Linked DNA regions of Homo sapiens: region 1 is linked to region 2. A link means that fine-mapping ties the variant in region 2 to the expression of a gene that starts in the linked region. Tissue or cell type: visceral fat. Region 2 holds a variant in brackets; the other region holds the start of a gene. All regions are shown on one strand. Distances are from middle to middle.

Region 1 (11,340 bases), 28 kb before region 2:
GTGGTTCTTTCCACTAAACTATGGTCTAGCATAGTTTCTTCACATGCAAACTGTTAGTTAAAGACTTGAAGGAACCCATCTGCAGCTCGCCACAGCCTCTCTCTCTCTTCAGCTCTCTCTGCTCCAGCATTCTGCCCTGCAACTCTGCTGCCTTAAGAGAATTCCTACTGCCAGATGAGAATGCTTTTTTAATTCTCATTTTTCTCCTCTATTTAGATAAACTGCTGGATTTTGCTTGGATTTGGCCTCCCTAAACTACAGCCTGGAAAATCTGTCCAGGCAATTATCTGAGGCATTGCAGGGATCATTTCATTTGTTTTTCTTTTCTCAAGGATTGCTCTTTCTTTTGCACTATTTGTTGTCCAATGTCTGAAATTATCGTTTCATACTTTTTCCAACTTAGCTGTTTAAAGTAGGAGAGTAAACCAGGTCATTGTTACTCTATCTTTGCTGGAAGCAGAACTGCTATTAGTATTGTTTCTGTCTTTATTTCACCAGTCTGGCTTATGATATAAAGTGACCATCCCAAACACACATGTTCATATATGCACACACACACACACACCACTACTACCTCCTGTTTTCTATAAAACTTTCTTTTTATAGTTGTGAAAGTTGTCAAAATCAAAATGAAGTCCTTTATATTAAAGTCCTGGCAAATGGACCCATGGAAGGCCATAAAGGGAGTATTCTCACACATATGCCTGAAATTCAGAACTATCACAAAAGACTGCCAAAAATGCAGTCTTGCACAGAAAATACTTCTGCAAGGATGTCTATTCAGCAACTGTCAGTCCTTGGACCAATGCCACCCTTGTTATTGATCCTCGTAGCCAAGGACAATTGATTCAAAACAACTTATTTATTCTTTCTCATTTTGCCTTTAAAAACTTCCCCTTGTCTTAACTTCTTTAAATATGCACATAGTATAATATGGCACACTTATTCACATTGCAAACCTGAATAAATATCATTTTCTTATGTAGAGTCTCCTTTTCTCTCTTTATTAAGTTTAACTTGGAAAAGGTATAGGTCATCCACCAGTCACTGTGGCTCACAATGGCCCAAAGCAGGAAGTAGGAGAAATCTTCCCCTACCTGAGTGAAGGAACCTCGTGGTTATATTTTCATTCATTCACTCACGGATGACAACCTGGATTTAGTTTGCCTGGGTTGCATTTTGGGCTACATCACTTTTTACTTTTGTGAAATTGTGCTAAGCCCTCTACATACAGTGTCTCACTTAATCCTCAAGACTACCTTCATACACCCATTTTACAAGTGAAGACGCTGAGGCTTAGAAAGGGTAACTATATTGCCCAATGTCTGACACACAGAAATGCTGCTCAATCTGTTGCTCGTTTCTCAGTACTCACTTCACTTAAGCTGTCATTGGCACTTGCCTGGGCTGATCATTTCCTCTTTCATGAAATTTCTTTCTTCAGTTCATGTCAAGTACAACACACTCATTTCTCCTCCAACCTCATTGTCTTCTCAGCTTTTATATCTTCTGAATCTCTACGTGTGTTCTTTGCTACTTATGCTTACTTTATAGGGGATCTCCTCCAGCCTCATGTCTTTAAATACTGTTTCTAATCTGATTAGTCACAAATCATATCTCTAGCCTGGAGCTTGAATACATCTATATATCCTAGTCCCTACTCAACATCTCCATGTGGATGTTTTTCCAATCTTCTCCTTTTTGTTCCAAATCCTTTCCCTGTCCTACCTCTGCTCTGCTCTGTCTTGTGGAGGGTGGAGTGGTCTGACCTCTGCAGGCTCTTGTGTCAGCCACCTTTAGCCTGCCTAGGATCCTCAGAAGGGACTTGTGGAAGACTGAAGGAAGAAGGAAGAAAGAAGGGGAGGTCCAGCTATTTCTAGCTCCTCTCTTTCTTGGCCATGAGTAGTGTCTCTGACAGAGACTGTTGCTCAACTTCTGGTCTATGGTATGACACTTCCTTCATCCAATAATGCCCCAGCTCTTTCCACTGTTGCTAATAATTTCTGTGGTGCCACCCAAACCCTGTTTGTCTTCTCAGCAATGTCATTACCTGTGTAACCATGTCCTCTGTTTGCAATGCCTAGAGTGGCTTCTATTTCCTGACATGGCCTGAGTTGACACAGGTCTCTAAAAGGCATCTCAAAACCAACACATCTAGAACAAACTCCTAATTTCCCTCTCAAGTTGTTCTTCCTGGTAGTTTGTCCATTCAAATTCATGGCAACTCCATTAGTGCCATCCTTGATGCTACTGTCCCTCTCATACCTGTATTCAATCCACCAGCAAGTCCTATTGGTTCAACTTTATAAACATACCTAGAGCTGCCTATTTTTCTCCACTTTCACTGCTATCACCATCCTGGTCCAAGTCATTATTAACTCTCACTTGGACTATTGTGGTAGCCTTCTGATATGGTTTGGCTGTGTCCCCACCCAAATCATTATCTTGAATTGTAGTTCCCATAATGCCCACATGTTGTGGGAGGGACCCAGTGGGAGATAATTAAATCATGGGGGGCAGTTTTCCCCATACCTTTCTTGTGGTAGTGACTAGGTCTCATGAGATCTGATGGGTTTATAAGGGGAAACCCCTTTCACTTGGTTCTCATATCCTCTCATGTCTGCTGCCATGTAAGACGTGCCTTTTGCCTTCTGCCATGATTGTGAGGCCTCCCTAGCCACGTGGAACTGTGAGTCAATTAAACCTCTTTCCTTTACAAATTACCTAGTTTTGGGTATGTCTTTATTAGCAGCATAAGAACTGACACAGTAAATTGGTACCAGTAGAATGGGGTGCTATTGTAAAGATACCCAAAAATGTGGAAGTGGCTTTGGAACTGGGTAACAGGCAGAGGTTGGAACAGTTTGGAGGGCTCAGAAGAAGTCAGGAAGACGTGGGAAAGTTTGGAACTTCTTAGAGAACTGTTGAATGGCTTTGACCAAAATGCTGATAATGATATGGACAATGAAATCCAGGCTGAGGTGGTCTCAGATGGAGATGAGAAACTTGTTGTGAACTGTAGTAAAGGTGACTCTTGCTATGTTTTAGCAAAGATACTGGGGGCATTTTGTCCCTGCCCTAGAGATTTGTGAAACTTTGAACTTGAGGGAGATGCTTTAGGGTATCTGGGGGAAGAAATTTCTAAGCAGTAAAACATTGAAATGGTGACTTGGGTGCTGTTAAAAGAATTCAGTTTTAAAAGGGAAACAAAACATAAAAGTTCAGAAAATTTGCAGTCTGACAATACGATAGAAAAGAAAAACCCATTTTCTGAGCAGAAATTCAAGCTGGCTGCAGAAATTTGCATAAGTAATGAGGAGCCAAATGTTAATTACCAAGACAATGGGGAAAATGTCTGACAGGGCATGTCAGAGACCTTTGAGGCAGCCCCTCCCATCACAGGCCCAGAGGCCTAGGAGGAAAAAATACTTTTGTGGGCTGGCTCAGGTCCTCCCTGCTGTGTGCAGCCTAGGGACTTGTGTCCCAGCCTGTGTCCCAGTCACTCTAGCCATGGCAAAAAGGGGTTAAAGTACAGCTCAGGCCATGGCTTCACAGGGTACAGTCCCTAAGCCTTGGCAGTTTCCATGTGGTGTTGAGCCTGTGGGTGCACAGAAGTCAAGAATTGAGGTTTGGGAACCTCCACCTGTATTTCAGAGGATGTGTGGAAAAGCCTGAATGTCCAGGCAGAAGTTTGCTGCAGGGGTGGGGCCCTCAAGGAGAGCCTGGGCTAGGTCAGTGCAGAAGGGAAATGTGGGATTGGAGGCCTCACACAGAGTCCCCAATGGGGCACTGCCTAGTGCAGCTGTGAGAAGAGAGCCACTGTCCTCCAGACCCCAGAATGGTAGATCCACCGATAGCTTGCACTGTGCACCTGGGAAAGCTACAGACACTCAACACCAGCCTGTGAAAGGAGCCAGGAGGAAGGGTCCCCCTGCAAAGCCACAGGGGCAGAGCTGCCCAAGACCATGGGAACCCACCTCCTGCATCAGTGTGACCTGGATGTGAGACATGGAGTCAAAGGAGATCATTTTGGAGCTTTAAGAAATGACTGCCTTGATGGATCTGGACTTGCATGCGGCTTTTAGCTCCTTCATTTTGGCCAGTTTCTCCCATTTGAAACAGGTGTATTTATCCAATGCCTGTACCCCCATTGTATCTAAGAAGCAACTAACTTGCTTTTGATTTTACCAGCTAATAGGTGGAAGGGACTTGCCTTGTCTCAGGTGAGACTTTGGACTATGGACTTTTGAGTTAATGCTGAAATGAGTTAAGACTTTGGGGGACTACTGGGAAGGCATGATTGGTTTTGAAATGTGAGGACATGAGATTTGGGAGTGGCCAAGGGCAGAATGATATGGTTTGGCTGTGTCCCCACCCAAATCTCATCTTGAATTATAGCTCCTGTAATTCCCACATGTTGTGGGAGGGACCCGGTGGGAGATAACTGAATCATGGGGGCAGTCTAGCCCATACTGTTCTTGTGGTGGTAAATAAGTCTCACAAGGTCTGATGGTTTTATAAGAGGAAAATCCTTTTACTTGGTTCTTTCTCTCACATGTGCCGCCATGTAAGACAAGCCTTTTGCCTTCTGCCATGATTGTGAGGCCTCCCCAGTCCTGTGAAACTGTGAGTCAGTTAAACCTTTTTCCTTCATAAATTACCCAGTCTTGGGTATGTCTTTATTAGCAGCATGAGAACAGACTAATACACCTTCTAATTAGTCTCCCTGCTTCTGTAGTTCAGAATGATCTTTCTAAACTAGATTATGCTGCCCTTCTATTGAAAATATTACACTGGCTTCTCATCTTACTCAGAAGACACGGTAAGATCTTGACAAGTGGCTCCCAAGGCACCAGACTTCTAGGACTTCATGTTCTATTACTTTCTACTATGTACATTCTGTTTTAGCCTCAAAGACCTCACCACTCTGGCTAGGACCCACCAGGAATATTCCTACCACAGGGCCTTTGTACCTGCTATTTTCACCCAGAATGTGCTTTCTCCAGTATCTAAGGCTGTTAACTACCTCCTTGCCTGTGCTCAGGTGTCACTTCATAAGAGTCCTTTCCTGATTACCATATACATATCATCCTCCTTATCCCTGTTTTTTTTTTTTTTTGGGGGATGGAGTCTCACTCTGTTGTCCATGCTGGAGTGCAGTGGCATGATCTCCGCTCACTGCAACCTCCACCTACCTGGTTCAAGCCATTTTCCTGCCTCAGCCTCCCAAGGAGCTGGGATTAGAGGCACACACCACCACACCCGCTAATTTTGTATTTTTAGTAGAGATGGGGTTTCACCAAGTTGGCCAGGCTGGTCCTGAACTCCTGTCCTCAGGTGATCCGCCCTCCTCAGCTTCCCAAACTGCTGGGATTACAGGCGTGAGCCACTGTGCCCAGCCCCTTGTTGTTTGTTGTTGTTGTTGTTTGTTTGTTTTTGTTGTTATTTATAGCACTTATCACCACCTCATGTATTATATAGTTATTCATGATGTGTCTCTTCCCATCAGAATATATACAAGAGAACAGGAACCTTGTTTGGTTGGTTTCTATACCTCCACTGTCTTACTAATGCCTGGCATTTAGTAGGTGCTCAATAAAATCTTTGTTTTAGAAAATGATTAATAAATAATATGTACATATTGAATATTGTTTCCTCTTTTAACAAATCTTTAATAATAATAAAAAATTTAAAGCAGCAAGATTGCTTTGCATCAGGCACAATGATAAGCGCTTTAAATGGAGCCCATGATTCACTTTCATTTATAGAGCCCACATGCTCTCTGTCAGGCGCAGAAGGTGCCAGCCCTGCAGGAGCTTCGGGGGCGGAGCAGAAGGCCGCCTAAAACAGCCTTTGCTAAGAGAGCATGCGTAGGCGACGCGCTGGTAGAGCTGTGGACCTGCCAGCCTGCGAGGCGGAGGACGGGCTCCATCTCTTAGAAACGCCTACGGCGCATGCTCTATGGGGTCAACTGGGGGGCTGGCAAGCGGCAGCGCTGGTCTGGGGCGGAGTCTCCGAGGCACTTCCCGGTGGCTGGCTGCTCTGATTGGCTGAACAAATAGTCCGAGGGTGGTGGGCATCCGCCCTCCCGACAAGGCAGACCAGGCCCCCTGCAGGTCCCCTATCCGCACCCCGGCCCCTGAGAGCTGGCACTGCGACTCGAGACAGCGGCCCGGCAGGACAGCTCCAGGTGAGAGTGCCGGCGCCGCGGCGCTGCCAGGTGCGGGTGCGGCGTGGAAGCTGGTGCCTTCAGCAAGGGGAGGGTCGCGCCCCGAGGCTCTGCCGGCCGGCAAGACCCTCTGCGTTTGGACCCAGCGAGTCTTGCCTGGGGTGCCTGCGGGTGCTTTTTCTGCGGGCGTTGGCTCAAGGCATCTGCCAATCAACCAGGGCAACTTCAGAGAGCAACTTCAGAGAGAAGCCCACTCTCTTCCCTGGGCGCTGTCCACTTTCCTGGACAGGCGCGGTCTCCGGTCAGTGAAGCTGCCCAGTGCTCCTGGACCGCGAGGACAGCAGGGATGTCTGATTCCTCTCTCTGCATCCTCGTGCTCTCCCCTTAGCTCCTCCAGGCATCCCATCCTACCTCTCTTGTTAGCCAACGGCGTGGTCGAAAGCAGACTTGGGCATCAATCCTGGTTAAAGTCCCAGCGATACTGCTTTTTAAACAGCTGACACTTTGCTTCCAGTACTTCAGCTGGGTGAACCTCAGATTCCTGAAAAATGGAATTAATGGTACTGCCATAGGGTCGGTGGAGGAGTAATTGACAGTAGATCAGAAGCGCTGCCTGCGGTGGCTGGCGCCTCGCAAGAGCTTAAATGGGAGTCGTAATAATTGTTGTTATTAGAAAGTTAAATAGCATGCTGCGTTGGGGCCTTTTCTTCTGCCACTGAACTGTTGGACTGCTCTTATCTTTTTTCAGAATCTGTACTATGCATCTAATATATACGTGGCACTTTGCTTGGTCCTGGGGGTACAAAGCTGAGTCAGATTGTTACAAAGTCTAAATAACTGAGATAAAGGTGTTAATACAGCCCAGAAAAGCACACTTAATTCAGCCTGGAAGGTTTTTTTTCCCCCCTCCTTCGAGATTTTCAGAGTATCTCCTTCTTAGTAAGAATTGCTTGGCTTAGTATGTTGAGAAAAACATACTAAGTATGTAGTGTTGTGTTGGAAGGAAAACTTAACTGGGTGAGATTTTCAGCTGAGTAGCTTTAGCTGTTACTCTCATGGACCTTCCTCTGGGCGGTTGATACAGGTTCTGTAGGAAAACCGCTGAATGAAAGCAGCTCCTGCAGATGCTATTCTGTTTTCAATTGTGGTAATTCCTTTAATTTTTTCCCTTTCAATTTACTCCTTATTCTCTAGTAATAATGGACTTTTGGGAGGTTGCATTTATGATAAAAAATAGCCTGGGGCTGTACAATCCTTCCTATCATGAAGAAGTACAAAGTTGTAAGTAGAAGCAGTGGCCTTGCTTTGCCAATGCACACTGAAGGGGATAACGTTTGCTCCTGTTCAGAGTTCACGGTCGGGCGCGGTGGCTCACGCCTGTAATCCTAGCACTTTTGGAGGCCGAGGCCGGCGGATCACGAGGTCAGGAGATCGAGACCATCCTGGCTAACACGGTGAAACCCTGTTTCTACTAAAAATACAAAAACAAAATTAGCCAGGCGTGGTGGTGGGCGCCTGTAGTCCCAGCTACTTGGGAGGCTGAGGCGGGAGAATGGCCTGAACCCAGGAGGTGGAGCTTGCAGTGAGCCAAGATCTCGCCACTGTACTCCAGCCTGGGGGACAGAGCAAGACTGTCTCAAAAAAAAAAAAGAAAGAAAAGAAAAGAAAAAGAAAAAGAAAAAAGAAAAAAGAAAAGAATTTCAGAGTTCACTACTTCTTGGAAAAAAATAATCCCAGGAGGAATTCCATCAACAGAAGGGAGTCAGTTCACTTTTGCAATCTCCTGAGAATCAATTTCTTAAGACTTGTGGAATATTCAGTTTAAACACAAAACTAAAAACAAACAGCTGTATTGGAGTATTATTGACATACAATAGCATGGCATATTTCAATTGTACAATTGTATAAGTTTTTGCATGTGTACACACCTGTGAAACCATCAGTACATTCAATATTATGAACCTGTACATCACCTCCAAAATATTATTTGTGCATACCCCTTTGTGATCCTTTCTTACTGCCCCTTCTCTCCAGGAAACCACTGATCTGCTTTCTGTGAATATAGATTAGACTGCATTTTGTGGAGTTTTATATGAATGGGATCAGACAGTACTTTTTTTTTTCCTTATTTTGATCTGGCTTCTTTTGGCATAATTATTTTGAGATTAATCTATATTTTTTTGTGTTCCTTCCCTTTTATAGCTGAGTAGTAGGTATATACCATAATTTATCCAATCATCCATTTAAAGCATTTGGGTTTTTCCAGTTTTTGTCTATTACACCCAAAGCTGTTATAAACATTTATGTACAAGTCTTTGTATGGGCATACATGCCTGCATCTTTTTAAGTGATTCTATTTATTTTTTAAAAATGTAGAAGTTCTGGGATCTAGTCCTAGGTTTTTCTCTGACCACTTGCGTGATCTTAGGAGAGGCATTTAACTTTGCCTTCAGCATCCTCAAGGTCTTTGCTGTGATTTTGAGTCATCACTGCCAGAAACCAAGATGGTCTTTGTTGATTTGATGGTTAGAGAATTTCAGAAGGAGAGAGACGGGTCAAATTTTTCCTTTCTGTTTCTTTTGAAAGCTCTATTTTCTTTCATTTCACTTTTTTCCCATGAATGACAAATTTAAATGCTGACGTATAATTTGGGGCAAGAACAGAAGTGGTTAGATAAGTAGGAGGAAGAGCTAATAGTGGTTAGATAAGTAGGAGGAAGAGCTAATAGTGGCTGAACTTAAACATGTCTAAATCATAGGTGGAAGGCAAGAGGTGGGAAATAAGCAAGCTCAGAAATTTTGTGTCTCTTTCTTTTTCTCAAACTATCCTCTTCTAAGTCTTGCCTTTTGTTATTTCTCCATGACCAATTTGTTTTTAACTTTGGGGTTAGGAGGTGAATGGGTATGCTGGACTCCAAAGGTCATATATCAACTGGAGGTGGTGGGTGGGAGGTTTCTTAGTTAAAAGTAATTCCTTTGGGCCGGGCGCGGTGGCTCACGCCTGTCATCCCAGCACTTTGGGAGGCCGAGGCGTGATCACGAGGTTAGGAGATCGAGACCATCCTGGCTAACACAGTGAAACCCCGTCTCTACTAAAAAAAAAAAAATACAAAAAAATTTGCCGGGCGTGGTGGCGGGCGCCTGTAGTCCCAGCTACCTGGGAGTCTGAGGCAGGAGAATGGCCTGAACCTGGGAGGCGGAGCTTGCAGTGAGCCAAGATTGCGCCACTGCACTCCAGCCTGGGCGACAGAGCGAGACTCAGCCTCAAAATAAATAAATAAATAAATAAATAAATAAATAAATAAATAAATAAATATAAAATAATAATAATAATAATTCCTTTGGGAGGCGGAGGCGGGCAGGTCACGAAGTCATCTGAGACCAGCCTTGCCAATATAGTGAAACCCTGTCTCTACTAAAAATACAAAAATTAGCCGGGCATGGTGGCCTGCACCTGTAGTCCCAGCTACTCTGGAGGCTGAGGCAGGAGAACCGCTTGAACCTGGGAGGCGGAGGTTGTGGTGAGCCGAGATTGTGCCACTGCACTCCAGCCTGGGCAACAGAGCGAGACTCCGAAAAAAAAAAAAAATTCCTGGGCAGGCGCGGTGGCTCACGCCTGTAATCCCAGCACTTTGAGAGGCCGAGGTGGGCGAATCACGAAGCCAGGAGTTCGAGACCAGCCTAGCCAATATGGTGAAAGCCCATCGCTACAAAAATACAAAAATTAGCCAGGCGTGGTGGTGCGTGCCTGTTGTCCCAGCTACTTGGGAGGCTGAGGCAGAAGAATTGCTTGAACCAGGAGGCAGAGGTTGCAGTGAGCTGAGATTGCACCACTGCACTCCAGCCTGGGTGACAGAGCAAGACTCCATCTCAACATAAATAAATAAATAAATAAATAAATAAATAAATAAAATAAAAATAAATAAATAAAATTTAAAAATTCCTTATTCTCCTTTCAGATATGGCTGGAGTCATTTGTTTCATATTTTCCTTTCACCTTTTACTTGCCCTAAATCTGGTTCAGAACTTTTTGTGGGAGCATTAAGTTACCAGAATATTTTTGTGTAGTAAAATTCAAGCAAATAATAATAGACTGTTTTATTATACAGAATGAAAATGCGGTTCTTGGGGTTGGTGGTCTGTTTGGTTCTCTGGACCCTGCATTCTGAGGGGTCTGGAGGGAAACTGACAGCTGTGGATCCTGAAACAAACATGAATGTGGTAAGTTTCTCAAAGTTATGTACTTTTAAAATGCATCTATTTCCCCGATCCAGTTATGTGAGCTACATGAAGCCATACCCATACATTCATCTCTTTATAACTCCTTTGCTTTTCAATTTCTCTGAATTTTTTTTTTTTTTTTTTTTTTTTTTTTTTTTGAGGCAGAGTCTTACTCTGTCACCTGCCCGCCCAGGCTGGAGTGCAGTGGTGTGATCTCGGCTCATTGCGACCTCCGCCTCAGGGGCTCAAGTGATTCTCGAGCCTCAGCCTCCCAAGTAGCTGGGACTACAGGCATGCACCACCATGCCTGGCTAATTTTTTTTGTATTTAGTAGATACAGGGTTTCACCATGTTGCCCAGGGTGGTCTTGAACTCCTGAGCTCAGGTGATCTGTCCACCTCAGCCTCCCAAAGTCCTGGGATTACAGGCGTGAGCCACCGTGCCCAGCCCAATTTCTCTGAATCTTAGATTCAATTTGCTAGGCTTTTCTCACCAGGTAATATGTAGCCAACAAACCTCAGTTTAATGTTATATATACTTCTTAATAAGATAAATTATGATTTTTTATTAATTCATTTCATTTTTAAGTCTCACTAAGTTTGTTTAAACTATAAAAAAGTATTTAAACTTTGCAAGAACATTACCGCTATTGAGAGCTGGTTTTAGAATACATTGAACAAAGGTTGTGATTAAGAATGTCCAGGGAACATATTTCTATACAGAAGTCAAAGTATCTGAGCTAAATTTTGTTAGAAAAAATATGCAAAAATAACCACTCGACTAATTAAAACATCTGAAAGTTATTAATCGTAAGTAAACAATAAAATCTGGAAATACCTCATTTAGGCACAAAATATCAGTAAAGTACAAATTATTAAAGAAAACAGCAACTTTAAAATAGATGTTGCAGTGACCCAGCTGAAGAATCAGGCAAGCTTAGGGACTCGCAGA
Region 2 (11,340 bases):
AGAAGAAGGCCTGGCACATAGTTGGTACTCAATAAAGGCTTGTTTCATGAATAACTGAATGGTCTCAGCGTTAGGTAAGCAGCTTGAGGTCAGGTTTCTTTGGCTCCCACATCTTTGTTTTTTCTGCTATATCACTGTCTCGGGTACAGGTGAGTAGAAAATAAATTCTCACAGGCAGACACAGACACATATATTTATGAATTTGTGTGTGTGAGCCTTTTTATCTATTTAACTTTTATTCAGCTTTAAAAATTTTTATTAAATTTTATTTTTTAAAGCAGTTTTAAGTTCATAGCAAAATTGAGTGGAAGGTACAGAGATTTCCCATACACCCTCTGCCCCCACACTCCCCTGTTATGAACATCCCTCACAGAGTGGAATTGTAATTGTTACAGCTGATGAACCTACATTCACACAAAGTCCGTAGTTTACATTAGGGTTCCCTTTTTTTTTTTTTTTTGAGACTGAGTCTCCCTCTGTCCCCTAGGCTGGAGTGCAGCAGTGCAATCTTGGCTCACTGCAACCTCTGCCTCCCGGGTTCAAGCAATTCTCCTGCCTCAGCTTCCTGAATAGCTGGGATTACAGGTGTGGGGCACCACACCCAGCTACCTTTTTTGTATTTTTAGTAGAGACAGGGTTTCGCCATGTTGGCCAGGCTAGTCTCGAACTACTGACCTCAAGTGATCCACTCGCCTCAGCCTCCCAAAGTGCTGGGATTGCAGGCATGAACCACCACACCCGGCCACTACAGTTCACTCTTGATGTTGTATATTCTATAGTTTTGGACAAATGTATGATGGCATGTGTCTACCTCTATAGTATCATGCAGAGTAGTCTTACTGCCCTGAAAAATCCTCTTTACTCTGTCTATGAATTCCTTCCTCCCTCCTAACCCCTGGCAACCAGGATCTTTTTTACTCTCTCTATAGTTTTGTCTTTTCCAGCATGTCATATAGAATGCAGCCTTTACAGATCTTGGTAATATGTATTTAAGGTTCCTCTACATCTTTTTGTGGCTTGATAGCTCATTTCCTTTTAGGGCTGAGTAATACTCCATTGTCTGGATGTAGCACAGTTTAGTTATGCATTCATTTACTGGAGCACATCTTGGTTGCTTCTAAATTTTGGCAATTATGAGTAAAACTACTATAGACATCTGTATGCAGGTTTTTGTGTAGATGTAAGTTTTCAACTCCTTTGGGTAAAATACCAAGGAATGTGATTGCTGGATTATATGGTAAGAGTATGTTTAGTTTTGTAAGAAACTGCCAAACTTTTCCAGTGTGGTGCTACCAGTTTGCATTTCCACCAGCAATGAATGAGAGTTCCTGTTCCTCCACATCCTCTTCAGCAGTTGGTGTTTTCAGCGTTTTTGGATGTTGCTCATTCTGATACGTGTATAGTGATGTCTCATTATGTGTGATCTTTTTCTTTCCTTTTGTTTATTTTGTTAGGAATTATTGTGAGAAATGCAATTACGAAAGCAAATTGTAAAAACATTTTATAAGAAAAAAATTGTAAAAACATTTTATAATTTCTTAAAAATATATTGATTTTTGTTTTTGCTGCTTACATAAGTGTGTCTTGTTAGTGGACATGCAAAAAATGGTCCAGTTTCACTGCTACCTTGCCAGTGCTGTTTTAAAAAAATTCTTTACTAACATTATATGTGAGTACATCACTATGTCAATCTTTCAATTTATTTCTAGTTCATTATTTGCTTATGGATCTTTTACGAATGTTCTATTTAGCAAGATATCATATTTGTTTTGAAGCTTGGTGCTACTGCCTCCTAAACAATGAATGTTTTTCAGGTCCCAAACCAGTTGTCTTCCTGCAACATGGCTTGCTGGCAGATTCTAGTAACTGGGTCACAAACCTTGCCAACAGCAGCCTGGGCTTCATTCTTGCTGATGCTGGTTTTGACGTGTGGATGGGCAACAGCAGAGGAAATACCTGGTCTCGGAAACATAAGACACTCTCAGTTTCTCAGGATGAATTCTGGGCTTTCAGGTATATATGAATTGATAATGGCATGGATGTATTTCCTTAGTACTCTTAAAGCAGACAACAGGCTTCCAGCAGAAGAGGTAGATAGGTGGTAACTCTGAAGTTGTATGAGAGGGGAAGTTAGTGTCTTTTGAAAGGTTTTAAATGTTGCTAGGAATTTAATGACTAGCAGTAAGGTAAATTATAAGTAAATGATTACATTAAGATTTACATTTAGTTAGGAATTCTTAAGTTACTTCGGCATTTCTGGTGGTGTGGGTGCTGCTGGGTAAACGTTATTCCATAACTTTCCTCCTTTCTCCATAAATATGTAATCCAGATGTTCACTTTTCTTCTTTCCAGAAATTATCCTTTCCTCCCTCTTCCTTCTGGCTCCACCAGTTAATTGCTGTATGACATTGGACATCTTACATAAGCCTCCTGTGTCTCGGTTTCCTTATTTGTAAAATGGAGCGTAATAAACACCTACCTCATAAGGTCACTGGGGGCTTAAAGGAGAGGGTGCAGAGAAGGAACCTCCACAGAACCTGGCACCTTGTATGAACTGGCTAGGGGTTGGCTCTTCTCCTGCCAGTGGCAACATGCGCATGCATATACCCATACGCACACTTGGGTTTTGGTCTATGTTTTGGTACCAGGTATTAGAGAAAGTCAGCAGCACTATAGCAGCCTCCGGGCTTGCTTCCCATTTTTAAAACCAGAGGCACCTCTAAGGACATGAAACACAAGAATGAGAGCTTTTAACAAAAGGCATATACAAGAATTGGTTTATTGTCACGCTATTTGTAACAACGGAAAACAGGAAACTACCCAAATGCATGTCAGCAGTGAATGGATAAAGTGTTGTATATTTATATAGTAGAATAAGAATGAACAACTTACAATTATATGCAGCAAAAAATGGATTAAGCCAGATACAGGAGAATACACATTGTATAATTCTACTTACAGAAATATTTAAAAACAGGCGAAACTAATTTCTGGTGTGAAAAATGAGGACAATAGTTACTTTTGGGAGACACAACTGGAAGAGAGCCCAAGGGGGCTTCTGCAGTCCTGCTGGTGTTGTTTCCTGGACTCACTGCTGGTTTTCCCAGCTGTGTTTAGTTTGTGATAACTCATCAAACTGCATACTCAGTATGTGTGTGCTCTATTTTATGTACTATTTCAATGAAAGAGTTCCTTTCTTGGATTACAGTTATGATGAGATGGCAAAATATGACCTACCAGCTTCCATTAACTTCATTCTGAATAAAACTGGCCAAGAACAAGTGTATTATGTGGGTCATTCTCAAGGCACCACTATAGGTATGTATGTAAATAAGATCAGAAGTTGATATAAATTCTTCATTACAGAGTTTGTACTTTTCTTAAAAGTGAAATATAAAAAGATGTTAGTTCAAATTCCATTTATTTTTAAATGCCAAACAGAAATAATGAATAAGATAAGGAATGTTGGTAACATTTAGTCTTCTATGAAAATTCATGTATATGGTTGAAATTGAAGAAATTAATGTAAGCCACAATATATTACATGTTTTCCTAGATGAAGCAAGATAGGGATGTGAGAGAGTAGAAAACAAGTAGTTTCTAAGTTCAGAGACTTACATAAAGAAAACAAGAAAATATACTGCCTTCTGAAGTTAAGTGGAATATAACTAACTACAGGTACATTTGGTTTACAAAAAATTTTGAAAAGTTATATGCATTTTAATTTATGCTGATTATATAAGTAATGCATGTTCACTGTAGAAAAACAGAAGAACAGAAGATTTAGCAAAATTAAAGAAAATAAAAATTGCCCATAATTCTAGTCAGCAAGAGTTTTTGTAATTAGGGACTAGGAACCTGTCCTATAATTTATTTAATTCTCCCTTTTAATGTTTACTATGACTAACACCTTAGTGTTCCCATCACATGCTTTCCTTACAATATATTCCTAGAAGGAGCCTTACTATATGAAAGGTATGAATGTTTTGAAGGGTCTCAAAACATGTGGTTATATTGCCAGGAAAAAAATGGAGTTAGGCATTTTTCTTTATTTATATTTCTTCTTTCATGACTTGCCTGCTTGGGACCTTTGCCCCACTGCTTCCTAAAGTGACATTCTGGGGCCAGGTGGCAAGACGTCAGAGAGGGTTGTATTAATTCGTTTTCATGCCACTACTAAAGACATACCCGAGACTGGGCAATTTATAAAGAAAAAGAGGTTTAATGGACTCACAGTTTAATGGATTGTGAGCTAGGGAGGCCTTACAATAATGACGGAAGAGCAAGGAACATCTTACATGGTGGCAGACAAGAGAGAGTGAGAGCCAAGTGAGGGAGTTTCCCCTTATAAAACCATCAAATCTCAAGAGACTTACTCACTACCACAAGAACAGTATGGGGGGAACCGCCTCCGTGATTCAATTATCTCCCACCAGGTCCCTCCCACAACACATGGGAATTATGGGAACTACAATTAAAGATGAGATTTGGGTGGGAACACACCCAAACCATATCAAGGGTTAAAATATATTTTAAAGCTAGGGGATTCTAAATGTGTGAGTTCCTTTGAAATCATTGGTGGTTTATTTCAACGTGGTGTCTGTAAATTGTTCTTTGGGGGAGGGGCATGGGGGAGATAAAGGTGATGGGGTGAGGCTCTTGGAAATAGTCTGTTATTTACATTGTAAAAGGAACTGGGAAGATTTTCTGATTCTCCCAGACTGGATTTCTTCCAGTGCTTATCTAGGTTGAGATTTGGAGCAAGCATTAACAAATGCTTGATTTACTAGTTTAACCAAATTCAGTGTTAGGGCACACGGAAGTTCAGAGTGCCCCATGTCAAGTGTTTTGGCTCCTGCTGGTGGTATTGTTTGCGTGGGTCTCAGGCCTCCGCGAGAGGGCGTCGCGAGTGACGGCCTTTGTGTTTTCTGAGAAGGAAATCCCAGATGATGGAATTCCTGTTTTCTGTCCTTTGTTCTCACAGGTTTTATAGCATTTTCACAGATCCCTGAGCTGGCTAAAAGGATTAAAATGTTTTTTGCCCTGGGTCCTGTGGCTTCCGTCGCCTTCTGTACTAGCCCTATGGCCAAATTAGGACGATTACCAGATCATCTCATTAAGGTACTTGGACCCCTCCCATCCCTCTCCTCTCCCCGCAGATTTCCTCCTGAGATCTGAAGAAATGGCAAGGGGAGGGATAATCTGTGCCTTCCTCCCCTGCGTTTTGATATCAGTGGAGCAGTGGGCTTTTCTTTTTCCGTTTACCCCTCCTTCCAGACCCAGGGGTGGCCGGGGACGCCTGTCGTTTCCTGCACACTGGTGCCACGTGTACTCATGGTTAGCATGTGTCAGTACAGCTCTGCCCACCTCACAGGGAGAGCAAGGAGAGTCTGGGAGAAAATAATTTAAGCATTTGTGGAGTTGCCCTTTATCCCATGAGGTGAGCCTGTGCACAGAGGATGTAGGAGATGGGAGATAGGAAATGTTCCCAAAAGCCCATCCCTAGCTACACTGAGGGTGACCTAACAACGCTATCATTATTGTATTTTATAATATGGCTCCTAAACACAGCCAGTAGCTTCATCAGGGCTCTGCCCTAAAGCTGTGGCACCCGAACCTCTGTTCAGGGAGGAAATAGATTTCATGAAAAAGAGTTTTAAGCTAGGTAAGACCAGATGTTCTATTATGCATGCATTATATGTCTTTTATGAAATATATGTTCACACACACACATATGAAATCCTGTATAGAAATATATACATGAAATGAGGTATAACGTCTCTCATGGGCCATTTAGAAGACTTAAATAGGAAAGATGGAATCTCCTAGGCTTAGGCAGTCCTTCTGCCTTGGCCTCTCAAAGTGCTGGGATTACAGGCATGAGCTACCATGCCTGGCCAATAAAAAAAATTTTAAAAAACAAAATAAAAAAGCAAG[C/T]GATGGGCTGGATTTGGCCTGCTGGCCAGTAGCATTGAATTAGATGGGCACACCTCTGGCAGACATTACTGATCAATCACAGCCTTGACTGTTTCTTAGAAGTAACCACCGATCCATCAGAGTCAGATGAAAATTACTTGGGGATGGCCCTGGGAGGGGTGATCATTAAGGCCCTTTCCCACTGTAGAAGTCCGCTGAAAACTTATTTGATTTTCTGCCTCCTTCTCTTCATTTGGAGAATTTAAATACACCTCTGTAGTGTGTGATTTTTGCTTTGGTAAACTTGTGCAAAAGCATCCTGATTTGATGTCCACTGGTTGCCATTCTCTCCTGAGGCCATTCGTGGAGACATTGGGTACTTGTCTCTGCTTCTGAGGTGAGTCACGGAGACTTATGCACCAGAGTGAAATGCTGAGATGTTCTTGGGTTTCTTTTTATTTTGTAGGACTTATTTGGAGACAAAGAATTTCTTCCCCAGAGTGCGTTTTTGAAGTGGCTGGGTACCCACGTTTGCACTCATGTCATACTGAAGGAGCTCTGTGGAAATCTCTGTTTTCTTCTGTGTGGATTTAATGAGAGAAATTTAAATATGGTATGCATGTTTATAGTAAGATTTGATTTTTTTTTTTATCTGTGAATGTGCTTATTTGTGTTGAATGATATGGGAGAGGTGGGAATGACCTCATCAGAACTCTAAAGAGTCTTTCATTTGAGAGGCACAAGCATGAACTTTGGCCAATGCCTAGAATACGGTACCACCTGCTGCCATCCTCAGGCTGACTGTGGTCACCTTCTTATGTTGTACCTAGATGGAGATTATTGAATGAGGAGATCTGTCACAAATTAAGCTGTAATATTTATAATTACTCTAGTGATTTGTTTCTTTTAGAAATCATTATAAGTATAAACATAAAGATGGGAACAATAGACAGTGGGGACTCCAAAAGGAAGGAGGGAGAGGGACAAGGGCTGAAGCCTGTTGAGTACTATAGCCAATATTGAGTACTGTGGTTATGGGATCAATAGAAGCCCGCATCTCAGCATCATGCAATCCACCCTTGTAACAAACCTGCACATGGACCCCCCGAATCTAAAATACACAAATTTTCAAAAATTACTATAAGTATTTAAATTTGGAACGGCCATTTACATACACATAAGTGTATGCTTGCAGTGTGTGTGTATTTATAAAAGTACATTTTATAAAATGTAAACCCATTTTATTTTATAAAATATAAACCCTTGGCCAATACTATGCCCGTGTTTCTAAATATGTTTGTTAGTTTGTCATGTGGCATTTTGAAAAAAAGGGTTAAAATCCTGGAATAAAGGCCCTAAGGAATTTCAGTGCCATTTTTCTTTTGTCTGATAATTAAAGCAAGGTGTGATTGTTATATGAAATTTGGGAAATTCAGGAAAGCATGAAGAACAAAATGAAAATGCCCTGTAAACGAAACCCACACAGTCCCGTGCTTACCATGTTGTTGCACCTCCTTCATATGGACTTTGTATGTGGTTGTATGTATTTTTATAGGGCAGATTTTTAGTCAAATAATTTTTTTCTACCTCTCATCTCACATACTTGAGATTATGGCTCTAGTTTTTAGTGCTTTGAAGGGCAAAATACAATGTTTATTATCAATGCCACCTTAATGCTGTTTTCATTCTTCATTTCAATGTATTTATTTTGCAGTCTAGAGTGGATGTATATACAACACATTCTCCTGCTGGAACTTCTGTGCAAAACATGTTACACTGGAGCCAGGTAGGCATTCCAGGAGTGCATTTGGGGTTCATGTAAAATCAACATCAGAAAGGTCTGGGCATGCAAACCCTTTCCAAATAGAAAGACAACCTGCTTACAAATCTGATCTGGTTTTCTTCCCCAGAGTCCTGGGTTTTTGTCATCGTGCTTGTGTTGCTTTTGATACCTGTGGTGGGGCACACTGTGTTATACGTGGGTTCACAAACAGCTACTGGGGTTGACATTTTTCTTTTCCCTCCTCTCCCTTCCTCAAGTCTCAGGTTAATATATTCTCTCCCTTTCCTTCTCCCCCAGCTTTCTTTTCCTCCTCCTGTTTCCTCCCCTCCATCTGCTTCTCATTGAGTCCTAGATTTTTTTTATTTCTGTGTTGCTTCATAAAGAGTGATTTTAAGTCCGTTTTGGAGATAGAAACCGCTGTTTCAACACTAACCCCTGATCACAATATGCTTGGAATAGCAGTGAATAAACTGGAGCTAAACCAATGATAGATGTGAATGGGGGCCCCTGACTTTTGAAATACAGTTTTGATTATTTTATCATGTAAATAAGTCATGTTCATTCTAGAAAATTTAGAAACTACATCTAGAAAAAAATTATCTTAAAATGAAAATAAAATCATTCTATAACCCTAGACAGAGAGGAAATGCATATCCATAGATATTGAATGTCTCTGCATTCTATTCTATACCTCTTTTCAAAAAGATGCTGTTAAAGACATGGATAGAAATAGTAGATGTAGAAATAGATTGATTTTTCTCCTGCTTACTGTTTTACAGCTTGCTTTTCTTTTTTCACCTGACAATATGTCAGGGACTTCTTTCTACCTCAGGACATAATTTTGTGCCATTTATTTTTCAGCTAACTTCATTTTTAATATGAAACAACTCACCATTTAAGCCCTAAACCAAGACACTGTAGGTGTCTTGAATAGTAATTTCCAAACACCTGGCAGTCACTGCTTGCATCAGAATCACCAAATTGCTTTAAAAAGTACACTATTTAATAAATCATTGCATTAAAAAAGTAATGAGAGTTGGAATTATAGTGGAATTCTTGGATTGGCTACCATCCAGGCTTATAAAACAAATACTCCTGTGTCCCAATCATTTGGACTAGAGAATCTGTACTTTTATTTTTTCGTTTTATTTTATTTTTTTGAGATGGACTCTCACTCTGTTGCCAGGCTGGAGTGTAGTGGTGCGATCTTGGCTCACTGCAACCTCCGCCTCCCAGCTTCATGTGATTCTCCTGCCTCAGCCTCCCGAGTCGTTTTATTATTTTAAAAAAAAATTTTTTATTGAGGTATAAGTGACATAGAATATTTAAAGTATACAATTTGATATATTTCAGTGTTTGTATACACCTGTGAAACCATCACCATAATCGACACAGCAAATATATCATCATCCTAAAAGGTCCCTGCTGCCCCTTTGTGATACCTCCCCCCATCCCTCCCCTCAATCCCACTGATCTGCTTCCTGTCATTGTAGCTTAGTTTGCATTTTCTAGAGCTTGCATGAGAACAGTCATGCAGTTTATACTTGTTTTTGTCTGGCTTCTTCCACTCAGAATACTTGTTTTGAAATTTTCCTATGTTGTGTATGTCAGTAGTTCATTCCTTTTTATTTCTGAGGATCTGCATTTTTAAAAAATCTGCCTGGTAGATTCTTTTGCTCCACCAGGTTTGGGAGCAGACCTGTTCGGGACATCCTGATACTTTCATCTCCTTCTTCAGTTGCCCCAGGAACTCTAACAGTGCTATAGTTCTCCTTTCCCTGGGGCTCGTCTCTAAGGAACTAGGAAGAGCCTGGCCTGAGGCTCCTGGTCCTTTATAGTAACTAGAAGGCTGAGAGTTAAATGTCAGTTCCTCAGGGGCAGAGTTTGTTGTGGCCTAAAAGAGGGGCATCTGGAATGCAAATAGTTCATGACGTGCTGAACAGCACATGCTTACCACTTAAGGAATGCCCCCAAACCTTCAAAAATCCTCAAATTCACAAAGATTGAGGATTTTCGTTCTTGGTTCAGGTCTCTGCTTTTCTCCTTGGTCACATTTATGCTTATAGTCACTTGTTTTCTTCATATACCCTGTCACTAGAATTCCCCTACATTTTTGAGGATGCCTAGGACCTCTTACCTAATGGACATTTTCCTAAAAGGCCCAATGTCTGTCACCTCATCAGTTATTGCACCCCCAGAGATGATGGAGGGTGACTGAGCTGGCTGGAGGCAGATCCTGAGCTTTCCCACCAGCTTAGTGACTGCCAGCAGCCCACACACAGTACACGCCAGGCCTCAGCAAAGTACAAATGGCCACCAGACCTGGGATGTCAGAGGCCCTTGGGAATGTTGAAACCAAGGCTGTCCTAGGCCAACTCTATTTTATATTACAGACCTGTGTTGCTTCACCCTTCTGTGTCTTGGGCCTCCACTGGGCATGGGGTTTGCAGTAGAGACATTGGATCGGCTATCATCTAGGCTACTGGTCTTGTTCCAGCCCTCTTATCCAGCAGCTTGCCAGGGTCAAAGGCTGCAGGGTGAGGGCCAGAGCACTGCTCTGTGCCCCATTTGTGACCTGGTGACTTTAGATTCTAACTACCCTGGAATATACCTCCAGAATATTTGCAAAGCCCAGATTTGCTGTACAAGGCAGCCTGGGCCTTTGCTCTTCTACCCGCTGTACCATCTTTTGTCAGTAAAATGGTTGGTTGCTTTGTGCAGCCATTGTATCGGATCTTCCCTTTGGCTTTCCCTCCTCTGGGCTGTTGGCCAGGGGCTGCCACTGGTGCAGGCTGCAGGCTCCAAGAGGCAGTGCAGGAAAAGGCTTCTGTGGAAGCTGGGCAGGCCTGGATGCCGGGCAGGCTGGGGCTAGAATTCAGGTGTGGCATTAGAGGGCTCTTATGGTATGAGTTTGGGGTTGACCTTAAAGGCCATTTTGTTTACAGTCCATTCAGAAGTTTACTTTTTGTTTAAATAATTAGGATTAACTTGTTAATAAATTCCATACCTTGTTCTTTAGCGGGATTTTAAATATAGCATACTCATCTTTCCATTCTCCTTATAAACCTGATGAATTTCGGAGCTCCCCAGAGCCAAGACTTGATATTACTTCTCACTTTCTCACTGGCCCTGCCCAGAGCCCAGGTACTCTCACCTGTTTGAAGAAGGCCATCCCAGTGTAGTTTTCCAGTGTTGTTCTGACCTACCTAAGGTGCTATTAAAAATACTGGTTCTTGGGCCTGTCTGAGACCTGTGGAGACTCTGAATTCCTAGGGCTGTGACCCTGGGATCTATGTTTGAGTTAAGTGCCTTAGATGATTACGATGTGCTCTTTTTTTTTTCTTTAAAGGAAAAAACATACTTTTGGTAGGCTTTTAAAGAACACTGTAAAAAGGATATTCAGTATAATTTTTGTTAAACATGTAATATGTTTTATGAAATTTTAGAAAATACATGAGTGAAAGAAAAATGACTTGTATGTCTAGCACCCAGCAATAGCCACTATTAATATTTTGGTATAATCTTACAGTTTTGTAATATAATCATTTCCATTACAAAAGTCAGATCATACTACATCTGCTTTTATGTAAATTTTCATTTAAAGAAATGCCATTATATTTGTTAGATACAAGTTAAGCTGT

The links. PIP is the estimated chance that this variant, and not a neighbour inherited with it, causes the effect.
Region 1: LIPA starts here. The variant in region 2 is the best candidate, but not a certain one, in a credible set for the expression of LIPA in visceral fat (GTEx, PIP 0.55).

Annotation. Positions count from the first base shown.
Region 1 is chr10:89,246,587-89,257,926 of GRCh38, reverse strand. LIPA (lipase A, lysosomal acid type) reads left to right here and starts at 6,152. Exons shown (of 10, transcript NM_000235.4): 1 at 6,152-6,190; 2 at 10,278-10,389. The coding sequence starts at 10,279. RefSeq lists enhancers at 6,066-6,125, 8,794-8,883.
Region 2 is chr10:89,218,873-89,230,212 of GRCh38, reverse strand. It overlaps LIPA (lipase A, lysosomal acid type), which reads left to right. Exons shown (of 10, transcript NM_000235.4): 4 at 1,815-2,013; 5 at 3,209-3,318; 6 at 4,985-5,121; 7 at 6,383-6,529; 8 at 7,631-7,702. Among named protein-coding and RNA genes, the nearest start is that of CH25H, 17 kb to the right of the region's middle. The variant C/T (reference allele first, on the strand shown) is at 5,938.